Linked DNA regions of Homo sapiens: regions 2, 3 and 4 are each linked to region 1. Evidence: fine-mapped expression QTL. A gene starts in region 1. Each other region holds a variant in brackets. All regions are shown on one strand. Distances are between the middles of the regions. Region 1 holds the start of PDGFD (platelet derived growth factor D). Region 2 overlaps PDGFD (platelet derived growth factor D). Region 3 overlaps LINC02552 (long intergenic non-protein coding RNA 2552). Region 4 overlaps PDGFD (platelet derived growth factor D).

Evidence for each region. PIP is the estimated chance that this variant, and not a neighbour inherited with it, causes the effect.
Region 2: its variant is fine-mapped to the expression of PDGFD in whole blood (TOPMed, PIP 0.98).
Region 3: its variant is fine-mapped to the expression of PDGFD in skeletal muscle (FUSION, PIP 0.95).
Region 4: its variant is fine-mapped to the expression of PDGFD in fibroblasts (GTEx, PIP 0.95).

The regions. Positions count from the first base shown.
Region 1 is chr11:104,162,823-104,165,440 of GRCh38, forward strand. PDGFD (platelet derived growth factor D) reads right to left here and starts at 1,325. Exons shown (of 7, transcript NM_025208.5): 1 at 982-1,325. The coding sequence starts at 1,105.
Region 2 is chr11:103,957,404-103,960,021 of GRCh38, forward strand. The region is part of intron 3 of PDGFD (platelet derived growth factor D); the gene reads right to left. Among named protein-coding and RNA genes, the nearest start is that of PDGFDDN, 52 kb to the left of the region's middle. The variant A/G (reference allele first, on the strand shown) is at 1,201.
Region 3 is chr11:104,585,346-104,587,963 of GRCh38, forward strand. All of the region lies in intron 1 of LINC02552 (long intergenic non-protein coding RNA 2552), which reads right to left. Among named protein-coding and RNA genes, the nearest start is that of LINC02552, 23 kb to the right of the region's middle. The variant A/AAT (reference allele first, on the strand shown) is at 1,221.
Region 4 is chr11:104,104,668-104,107,285 of GRCh38, forward strand. The region is part of intron 1 of PDGFD (platelet derived growth factor D); the gene reads right to left. Among named protein-coding and RNA genes, the nearest start is that of PDGFD, 58 kb to the right of the region's middle. The variant G/A (reference allele first, on the strand shown) is at 1,552.

The DNA.
Region 1 (2,618 bases):
AGATGTGTTAGTACTTTAAGCAAGCAGGAGAGAAAGATACTGATGTAGGAAAAAACAAGATCCAAAAGCCTATGGGTCAGTTCAGGTACATGGCAGAACAGCTAAAATTTGCTGGGAACATCAGCTACAGTTTTAGGTGGAGGCCCCAGAAAGTAAATAAACTCAGCTTAGGGTCTCTGGAACCAGTGACCCAGGTGTCCTCTAGAGTAAAGGAAAACAAACAAGCTGGCTTGGGACCTTGCTTAGGACAGCTGTTTCAGGAGCTGTGCTCCTTGTAGATAATTGGAAGCCGCTTCTGCAAGGAAACTAGCAGCAGAAGCCTGGTGCCCCTGTGGTACTGATGAAACCCCAGAAGCCTTGGTCTCCTACACTCTGAGCTTCTGAGTCAGGGTGAACTTCAATAGGAAAGTCACTTAGGGGACCTAAAGGGCAATAGGCTGCACACTGCCATTTCCCGAAAATAAATAGTAAATTGTCACTGTTCCAGATATAACTGCTAGATTGAAACGCACGATTTCTCCTCTCACTCGTAAAAATAAATAAATAAATAAATAAAATTTAAATAAACGTCTATCACCCAGGGAAAGCTACTCTTGACTCCTTCCACCTATCAAAATTGCCTAAGAAAGGTTGAGTCTGACCAAGGGGCGGCGCAGCTTGCAACTTTCGCCAACTCCGGGATGAGGCACCGCATCCTGGTACCAGAGGCTTGGACACCAAAATGACTTCTCTAGGGTGCAGCAAGGTGAGCCACCTGGCTTATCCTATCCCCATCAGCACGCGTCCCACACCTCTCAGTCCCATTCCGGAAATGGAGCTCTCTCAGGACTGGATACAGGCAGGAGACCTCCCTCCCCAAACAATGCATTCAGCCCGAGTTCACATTCAAGATTCAAAAAGAAAGGGGAAAAACATAGAAAGAACAATAACAATAGCAAACATGATTTTTTTTTCAGTTAAAAAATAAAATGAGTCTCTTACCATCTCGCCTGAGGTTGGCGTTGCGCAAAGCTTTGATGGATGCGCTCTGCGGGGTTGCAGAAGTGTCCCGACAGCTGCAAAAGTTTGCGCAGATTAGAGTGTAGACAAAGATGAGCCGGTGCATTTGGGATCAGCGACTAGAGACAGCGTCGCTCCAAGAAAAAGCCGGGTTCTGCTCCCGGGACCGACGCCGCGCCGCCCTGCGCTCTCGCCGCCTGCGCTCGCCCTGCGCTGGCCCGGGTCGCTGTGCTAATCGCCGAGCTCTCCCCAAACTTCCTGCATGCTGAACTTTCCGAGCGCGTGTGGGTGCCGCACTTCCTTGTGGTGCTGAGCTGATAAATGGTGACGGGACAAACAACAGGTTGACGTTTGTTTGTTCGCCCCCTCCGGTGGCCGGCAGCTGCAGCACAGGCTGCAGGGGGCGGGCAGCGCCGAATCTAGCGGGGCAGGCGAGCGGAGCAGCAGCGTTCTCCAGCCCCGGCCGCGGCCCCTGAGAGGCGCGCACTCGGGCTCAGAGCGGCGGCGCGAGCACCTCAGCTCCCCAGTTTCCCAGGCCGGGCCTAAACCTGCTCTGCCACTGAGCATGCCCAGTTTAATCGCCGGCCGGGACTCTTCCCACCGCCCTGGGCTTTACCCTCCTGGTTGGACCTGTAAGGGCTCAGGAAACAAACTCGCCAGGAGGAAGTGGGAGAGGGTAGAATCCCAGCACTTCTTCAGAGGTGACTGGCACATCCACCCACAAGCCACAGCTCTCCGCCTTGATGGTGGTGGGATGTGGGGACAGGGACTGGAGTTGGGAGTGTTTATTTTACAATAACCAAAATGAGACTCTACTTAGTTAAAATTTCACTGTTTATAGTGAAAAAATACAATCACAAAGGAGCTTAATTCCGAGCTTTTCTTTGAGCTCCCATCAGTGTGACCTTTGGGTGAGTCAAGGGTACCTTTTCAGGGAATAAAATAAAAATAAAAGTATATCACCCAGAGAAAGCTACTCTTGAGTCCCTCCATCTATCAAAAATGCCCGAGAAAAGGTCGAGACTGATGGAGGGATGGCGTAGCTTTCACTTTTCGCGAACTCCAGGATGAGTCAGGGCATCCTGGTACCAGAGAGTATTGGACACCAAAATGCCTTTTCTAGGGTGCAGCAAGATGAACCACCTATCACACAGGGCTGTAGACGTGATGGGCCATGTGGTGCAGTGTACAATAAGGGCAAGAAGTCTTCACGAGCGTTTTTATATGCACTAGCTCCAGCCCTTCCACAGGAAAGGGCAACAGGACAGAGTGGGGTTGAGCAGGAACAGACTGAGCAAGGGGAAGAAGTTGCAGAACACTGTGCTCACTTGCCTTCACAGTCCATAGGAAGAGGCATGGGTCGTTGAGGCTTTTGGGATTCTCCCTACTCTGCGTCTGGAAGCTCAGCAGTTGAAAGGGGCTGCCTCTGGTTTACATCGTGTGTCTGTCTGCCCATGGGAGGGGACTGTATTTGGAAAAGGAATGAGTCCAGACTCGCTGCTCACTGGCTTTGTCCCCTTGAGCAAATCATCTGATCTTTCGAAACTCAGTTTATTTATTTGCAAGAGTAGCAATTGTTAATTTGTATGGTTGTGGTGAGAATGATGTGAAAAAATGTT
Region 2 (2,618 bases), 210 kb before region 1:
GCCAAGTCAATCCTAAGCCAAAAGAACAAAGCTGGAGGCATCACGCTACCTGACTTCAAACTATACTACAAGGCTACAGTAACCAAAGCAGCATGGTACAGGTACCAAAACAGAGATATAGATCAATGGAACAGAACAGAGCCCTCAGAAATAATGCCGCATATCTACAACTATCTGATCTTTGACAAACCTGAGAAAAACAAGCAATGGTGAAAGGATTCCCTATTTAATAAATGGTGCTGGGAAAACTGGCTAGTTTGGGAATTTGTTCTCGATATAGTAAGTAAAGATTAGAGCAAATCCCAGTCCAGCAAGCTGAGAAGAGAAGGGGGTCATTGATTTAAAAGGGGTCATGAGAATGATATTCAAGAACTAGAGAGGATCAGCGTGTTTGCAGATAGAGAGAGGGGTGCCGCATACCAAGGGGCTGCACAGAAAGTTGCAAATTGCAAAATACTACTTTGTTAATAGCTTCCATGGTGTTTGGTCATACCATGGTGTTTGGTGTATGGTGTTGGTTCACCAACCTCCATGGTGTTTGGTAAGTGAACATTTAATTTACACCTAGAGAAATACTACAGTATTTCTACAATCTGTTGCCGAAGAGCTAGGTTCAGATTTAAATTTTGTGACTAGTTGTTTAGCATTAAAAAAAAAAACTCTGTGATTAATTATTTTGCAGTAACGCCTGCCACTTATGGAGCACAGATTTTATGCCGGTGACTATATGAAATACTTTCCATAAATTATCTCATTCATCATTTCTACAGTAGCTTTAAAAGATGAGGAAGCAGAAAGACAGGATGCAAGCCCTATTATTAAGGAAGTGCCACAGATACCTGAAACCGTGGCTGAGTCTCTGTACTCTTTCATCTTTGTTGAATAATTCCTCTTTTCTTTTATAAATAATCCTTTTTATAAAATAAACGAATCTTCTTGATTTGTGCTAAGTTCAGGTTTTCATAAATTCCTTAAATGCATTTCAAAGAGAACATCTGATTCAATTCACCAGTGGTCTGAAATTTATTAAAGATTGTACTTTTGATATTGCTAAGCTAATCTTAAAGATTGTTTATACCAAGCTAAAATGAATGACTTAGGAAATTATTCCTGCACCTTAGGAAAATTACAAGTTTGAAATGAAGAAATACTGACCTGATTCATATTTTCATTTTCTTGCAAGCACAGTGCCTGGTACAT[A/G]GTAAGCACTCTTTTTTGTTTGTTTGGTTTGTTTTTATTATTGTGGTTAAGAGAGGAAATACTGTTTCATGCTCAGAATTCAACAAACCATTTCACGCCTCTGTGCTGAAATTCACACTCCCAATAACTGCTAAATTTCTCTGTACTTGACTGACGTTATATAAATAGATTTTCTTCATGGTGGCCAAAAGCTAGTTACATTATTAAAACCAGTAATTAGAGAAAATGGGAATTACAAACAGTATGAAGATTAAGGCCATGTCACCAAAATCCCTTAGCTAAAATCATTATCTCTAAAAACTCAAATTATTCCATTACTAATTAAAACTCCTAAGATCTGACTTTAGGGAGAAAATACCATTTGAAGTCTAAAAGCCAAAGCCACAGTCAACACAGCTGGTACGGTTCCATGAAAAAGAGCACTCATGAAATGTTACTCAGCAAGTGATGGGATTATAATGTAAACGGGAACATTTTCTAAGAGAATCAGGAGTGTCAGTTGTAAAGTATTAAAAAAGCTGTCCATTCTTTTTAAAAATATGGGTATTTCCTAGTGAGGTGACTTTGCGTTGTGACACCTTTTCCCTCTACACATTCATCCTTATCCTTACACTGGACCAGTGTTCATTCATCAGAGCTGCCACCCATCATAATTATCATTTGGCACTATGGGCCATACTGAATATAAAATATTTAAGAGTCATGTTACTACTATACAGCTATGTAAATGAAAACAAGTAATTCAAAGTACCTTTTTCTTGACCTGACTTCTTTCTAAGGGGATTTCCAGAGTCATTTATGTGGTTAAACTAGAGAGATGGTTAATGTAAAGTCTGAAACAAAAGCATAGGACTCATACCCTTGCAAATTACTCTTCTCACAAAAGGGGAGATTCGTATATTCTTGACTTTGTACTTCCTCTTTCCACTCCCCACTCAACTAGCAACTAACTAAGGCAGCTGGCACATTTTGGATCTCCAAAGCAGGCTTGCTATCTGGGCCCATTAGGTGAACTTGTTGGAACTGAGTGCCAAGCACACAGGTCGTGAGTTTCAGACTGTGCTAAGTACAGGTTTTCATAAATTCCTAAGAATTTATGACAGAGCTGATAAAACTTTACAAAGAGAAAAAATACTGTTGCCAAACACCATGGTTAACATCAGTGAAAGAGACCTCCTGGGGGCAACTGCCTGACTCAGTCCATAGGACTTCATCCCTCCAAGTAAACAACTTGAAGTCTTCTCCTCCAGGCTGGGAGGATCATTTTGGAATAGGATAAATGGTAATTAAATGAGAGATCCTGCAATTTAATTTCTATTAGTTCATGCGTATGGGCATTAAAAATTCCTTTTTACTTTTGGTTATCATCAGTTAACAGGAACATCTTTTACTTTGACCAGTTATTACACTAGCAATAT
Region 3 (2,618 bases), 420 kb after region 1:
ATCACAGTCAAACTAGGAATTACACTAGCAATTTTCCTCCAGTTACTACAGTTTTGCTTGTGGCTTTTCCTTCTAACCTTTCTTCATTGGGCAATAATAGCTCAGCCACTCTCTTCAGAGGTCATCCAATAAGAAAAAATTGCTCTAGTATGTCATTAGAACAAGAGGACAAAATGTGAGCATTTTAATATTTCTCACAATATCTCTGCATTTTGGCATTTTGATAACAAGACACACAATGAGCAAATAGATCAAGAGTAGTAAGATATTAAATTGGAAGCAAATGCTATTACAGTTTATGTCTTTAAAATCTGAGTTGGAAGTTTTGTTTCCATCTATGAGGGAGTAGATGTATCAAAGAAATCCTTGGAGAAAGTAAGTGTAAAACCTGGATAGAAAACAGAAACAAAGCAAAGCAGCTATTTGGATCCCACAGAAAACAATCACGACAGCCAAGAATTGTGGGGACTAGACCTATAGAAGAGGAAATTGCATTGAGCTCAACCCCAAATTTGCCTCTATAATTTCTCCCTATTTATTTACAGTTTCTCAGTGATAATGATGGAGCCTGAAGAGAAAGTAATAGCCTTGAGTTGTGACCAATATCATTAGATAGAGAGAACAAAATCAGACTTCAGGAACTGGGGCAACCACGATTTAAGGGAAAAAGGTACGGGGGAGAGGACATTCAGAGGAGTAGCATCAAATATTACATGCAATTTTCCTTGGAGCATTTGCCAACTTGTAAAATGCACACGCTTGGCGTGAGGCACTGTGAAGTACAGGCAAAGGATTTGTCCAGTTCACAGTGCTGGGAAAGCAATTTTAGAGGCCCCATCCCACAAAAAAAGAAGGGCCTCAGGAAAAAAACCTCAGTTGAGGATCTTAAAGAGCTAATCTTAACAATAAGAGCAATATCATAAAAAATAAGGGTCACGTTTAAAAGTAAAGGCAGAGTAGAATTAGAGCAGGAATCACTAAACCTGAACTGCACAATAGGCTATATGAAGATGATCTGGCCAGACTCTAGCAGCTTTCTGGAATTACATTAAATTCTCTTTGGAAGAAGATAATATCACGTGTGTGTGTGTGTGTGTGTGTGTGTGTGTGTATATATATATATAAAGATTAGATATAGATATAGATATAGATAAAATAAAATTTAATTTATATATATAAATTGAATATATATATATAATTTAACTTATATATATAAATTG[A/AAT]ATATATATATATATATTTAATTTACAAAATCCAGCTTAAAAAATAATTGGTCATGGCAGGAAATAGGACAAAAAAGCTCCCAAAAAGAAGAAAAAATAAAGGAAAAGGAAAAGCAATAGTAAAACACCCAGAGGAGATTCTGTTGTCAGACATAAAACTTGAATATCAGTATAATTAATGCGTTTACAAAGTAGCGAAAAAGGTGAATGCAAAGTAGAGAAAAAGATGAACCACAATCTGTTAAATAAATGCAAATGTTAGAAGAAAAATATATATTAAGAAAGTAATATAAGTTTTAGTAGTGGTTTAGGTATCACAGAACCAAATGTTAGTGAGCTAAAAGACAGTTCAGCAAGAAATACCGAGGTTGAAACACAAAGAATACAGAAAATTTTAAAATACAGAAAATATCATGAGATGTCAAATACAACATGATGAAAAGTTCTGAACTTTGTGTGATTAGAACTCGAGAGGAAAGACAAAAGAGAAAAACAGTAATATTAAAAGAGAATGAAGGGCAATCATTTTGAGACAGCTTTAAAAAATTAAAAATAATTTTTAAAAACCCAGAAAGCCTCTCCTTCAAACAGCTTTCAAAATACCCCAATAGAAATAAAAGAACACACACACATATTATTGGTGTAGTTAAGAATTTGAAAACAAGGGAAAATTTGAAAAGCAACTGTATAAAACTCATGTTTCCTTCAAGAGTGAGATAGACTGCCAACGAACTTTCAGAAACAGTGGAAAGTAGAATATAAAAAAAATTGAAAATGCCAGGCTGGGCTTGATGGCTCATGCCTGTAATCCCAGCACTTCGGGAGGCTGAGGCGGGCGGCTGATGAGCTCAGGAGTTTGAGACCAGCCTGGCCATCATAGTGAAACCCCATCTCTACTAAAAATACAAAAAATTAACTGGGCGCAGTGGCTGGCGCCTGTAATCCCAGCTACTCGGCAGACTGAGGCAGGAGAATTGCTTGAACCTGGGAGGCGGAGGTTGCAGTGAGCCGAGATCACGCCACTGCACTCCAGCCCGGGGGACAGTGCGAGACTCCATCTCAAAAAACAACAACAAAAATGAAAATCGCAATAAAGGAACTCATTTTAGAATCTTATTCATGATGAAATTTTCTTCAAAAATAAAAAAAGGCACTTATAAATAAACAAAAATCAGAGAGATTAATCCAGGGAAGGACGCATTAAAAGACATGAAAAGATATTATTAAGCAGGTAAAAAGATAAGAATATTCACTGCTTAAACAATATGTTGTGGAGTTGAAAATATGTATAGAAATCATGTACACAAAAATGGTAGCACAAAATTCAGTAAATGGAGCTGAAGTTGTAAGGTCCTTGCATTGTCCAGGTAGTGGTATAAGTATTGATTTAAGGTAAAG
Region 4 (2,618 bases), 58 kb before region 1:
AAATTCTATTATGTTCACACAATGACGAAACCACCTAATATTCTCACCAAGAAAATGCCTATATTTCTGACAATGTATCCCCATTGTTGAGTGATTCATGATTGTACACAGAAACTTCTCTGAAGAAGATTCTAAGTCTCTGAATACTACCTATCACCAGAAACAGGTGGTAATATTCACAACTACCTTGTGAAACAGCTGTTTGTTACCTCAAACACTGATACCATATGCAAATTTACATATATCTATGGGAACGCTACATAGGAGAACTCTTATTTTTCACCAATAAGGACTTTGTTCTTGTTGCTCACCATGTATACCAGCATCATAAAAGATGAAATGAAATGCAAATAGGTAACATTTATGTGAAACGTATGTGCCACTGTGTTAAGCATTTTACAGACATTACTCATATAAGTAACCCCATTAATGGGGGATCCGTGATTATCATTTCACAGAATGAGGAGACAGATGAAGATCACCCAGACAGTAACTTGCCCAGGATCACACAGAGGTAACAGCTGGTATGGTTTTGACCTCAGGTCTCTGATTGGAATCTTCTGCTCCATTTGTAGCTGAGCAAGAAGGAGGGAAGAGCTAAAATTATGCCCCAAAATTCCAGTCTTTATTATAGTACACACAGTTCATTGTATCATGTTTTGTTAACAACTAGTGTTCTCAAATTACATGAACTAACCAAGTCGCAGGCACAAATAAAATGCCTGCTAGATAAAGTCACCTCACTTAGATGAAGGCATTAAAGTTGAGAGCAAACTATGGAGAAAAAAAAATAAACCATGTTTACATGGGTAAGAAAAAGCATTTGGTCAGTTATTTATCTAACTCACATAAGACTAAAAGAAAAAAGGATATTTGTATCTCCAATTATTTAAACCACCTGGTTGTATATGCTTTCATATTTTCCAAACGCTTATTCAGCTTTACGTGACATTTTTCTCGGTGTGGAGTTAGTAATATTCTGTATAGAGGTGATGGCTCATATAATTCAGCTGTGAAAGCCATAATTTCCAAAATGACAGTAGGAAAATAATGTCTCATGGAGATAAAGGAAACTGACAATAAAAATGGAAGAAGTACAAAAACTGCCATGTAAAATAATTCCTGGAAATTTTTGAAAGTTTTGCTGGAAAACTTTTTTTGAAAGTTTTGCTGGAAAAGACTACATACTTCTCCAAAAGAAAAGTAAACTTCTAAGTGTTATATATAAGTAGATATTAGTATTATCATGAATTATGAAGAAAAAACACTTGCATTTGAGACAGGTCTACAAAGAAATCCAGAATGGCATGTGTAGTTGTCCAAATAAGCATAGTGTTTACAAAAGAGTTACTTTAGAAGTATTGTTAAATCTTCATTTAAAAAAATTAAACCAGCACCACAGGGAGTTTAGGTAATACATATATTAGAAACTTATATTTCTGAACTGAGGAGCAGAGTAAATCATTGGTAGATGACTTAAAAGAATTCTAACCATAATTAATAAACTATGTAATCTCAAACCTCCACGCACGATAGTTGTAAACAAGATGA[G/A]GTAATTCCAATTTTCAGCACTCTGGCAGTATTTGTTTGCAAAATTCCTCATGAACCCACTAATTGATAGCATATGTTCACATTTTTTTAGCTCTGAGGAATGATAACAACCACAAAGAAGTATAGCCAAACTAATACCATAAGACATAGTTAATTTTTTCAGAGACAAGATTACTACCTGTGCATCAGCATAACTTCCAGTGATAGCAAAAACTTCTGTTTGTGTTTCTAAAAATAGGCATCATTGATATTAACACTGATCCTATGCCAAAACCATCTTGGGTGAGATGCTGGAACTGACGCACAAAGACAAAAAGTCCACATTCATTCAATTATTCAGAAAACACAGATTGCCCATTCTGTGCAAGGAACTTTGTTGTATACAGGAAGCTAAACAAAGACTATTAATTCCAGGCCTTTAGAAAACTTGAAGACTAGCAGTAGAGATGAAGCAAGTCCTCCTCATTAGAAATTACGGTGGCCAGAATTCCATATGATCCTCAGTGACCCACGCCTTTGTATGATGCCTTTTTTTTTTTTTTCAAGTCAGAATCTCACTCTGTTGCCCAGGTTGGAGTGCCGTGGCATGATCTCGGCTCATTGCAACCTCTGCTTCCCGAGTTCAAGCAATTTGCCCACCTTAGCCTCGCAAGTAGCTGGGACTACAGGTGTGTGCCACCACGCCTGGCTAATTTTTGTGTTTTTAGTAGAGATGGGGGTTTCACCATGTTGCCCAGGCTGGTCTTAAACTCCTGACCTCAAGTGATCCTTCTGCCTCAGGCTCCCAAAGTGCTGGGATTAGAGGCGTGAGCTACCACGCCCGGCCAATGCCCTCTTCTGAATGTAGGCAGGACTCTGAAGATGAGACCACTTCCATGATTAGAATATAAAATGTGACAAAGGTTAAAAAACATTGTGATGTAATTAAAGTCCCTAATCAATTGAGTTTGAGTTCATCAGAAGGGAGATTATCCCCAAAGAGACCGAATCACATGTGCCCTTTAAAAGAGGGTCGATCTATAGGTAATAAACAAGAAGCATCAAGGATACTCTCTTGTTAGTCTTAA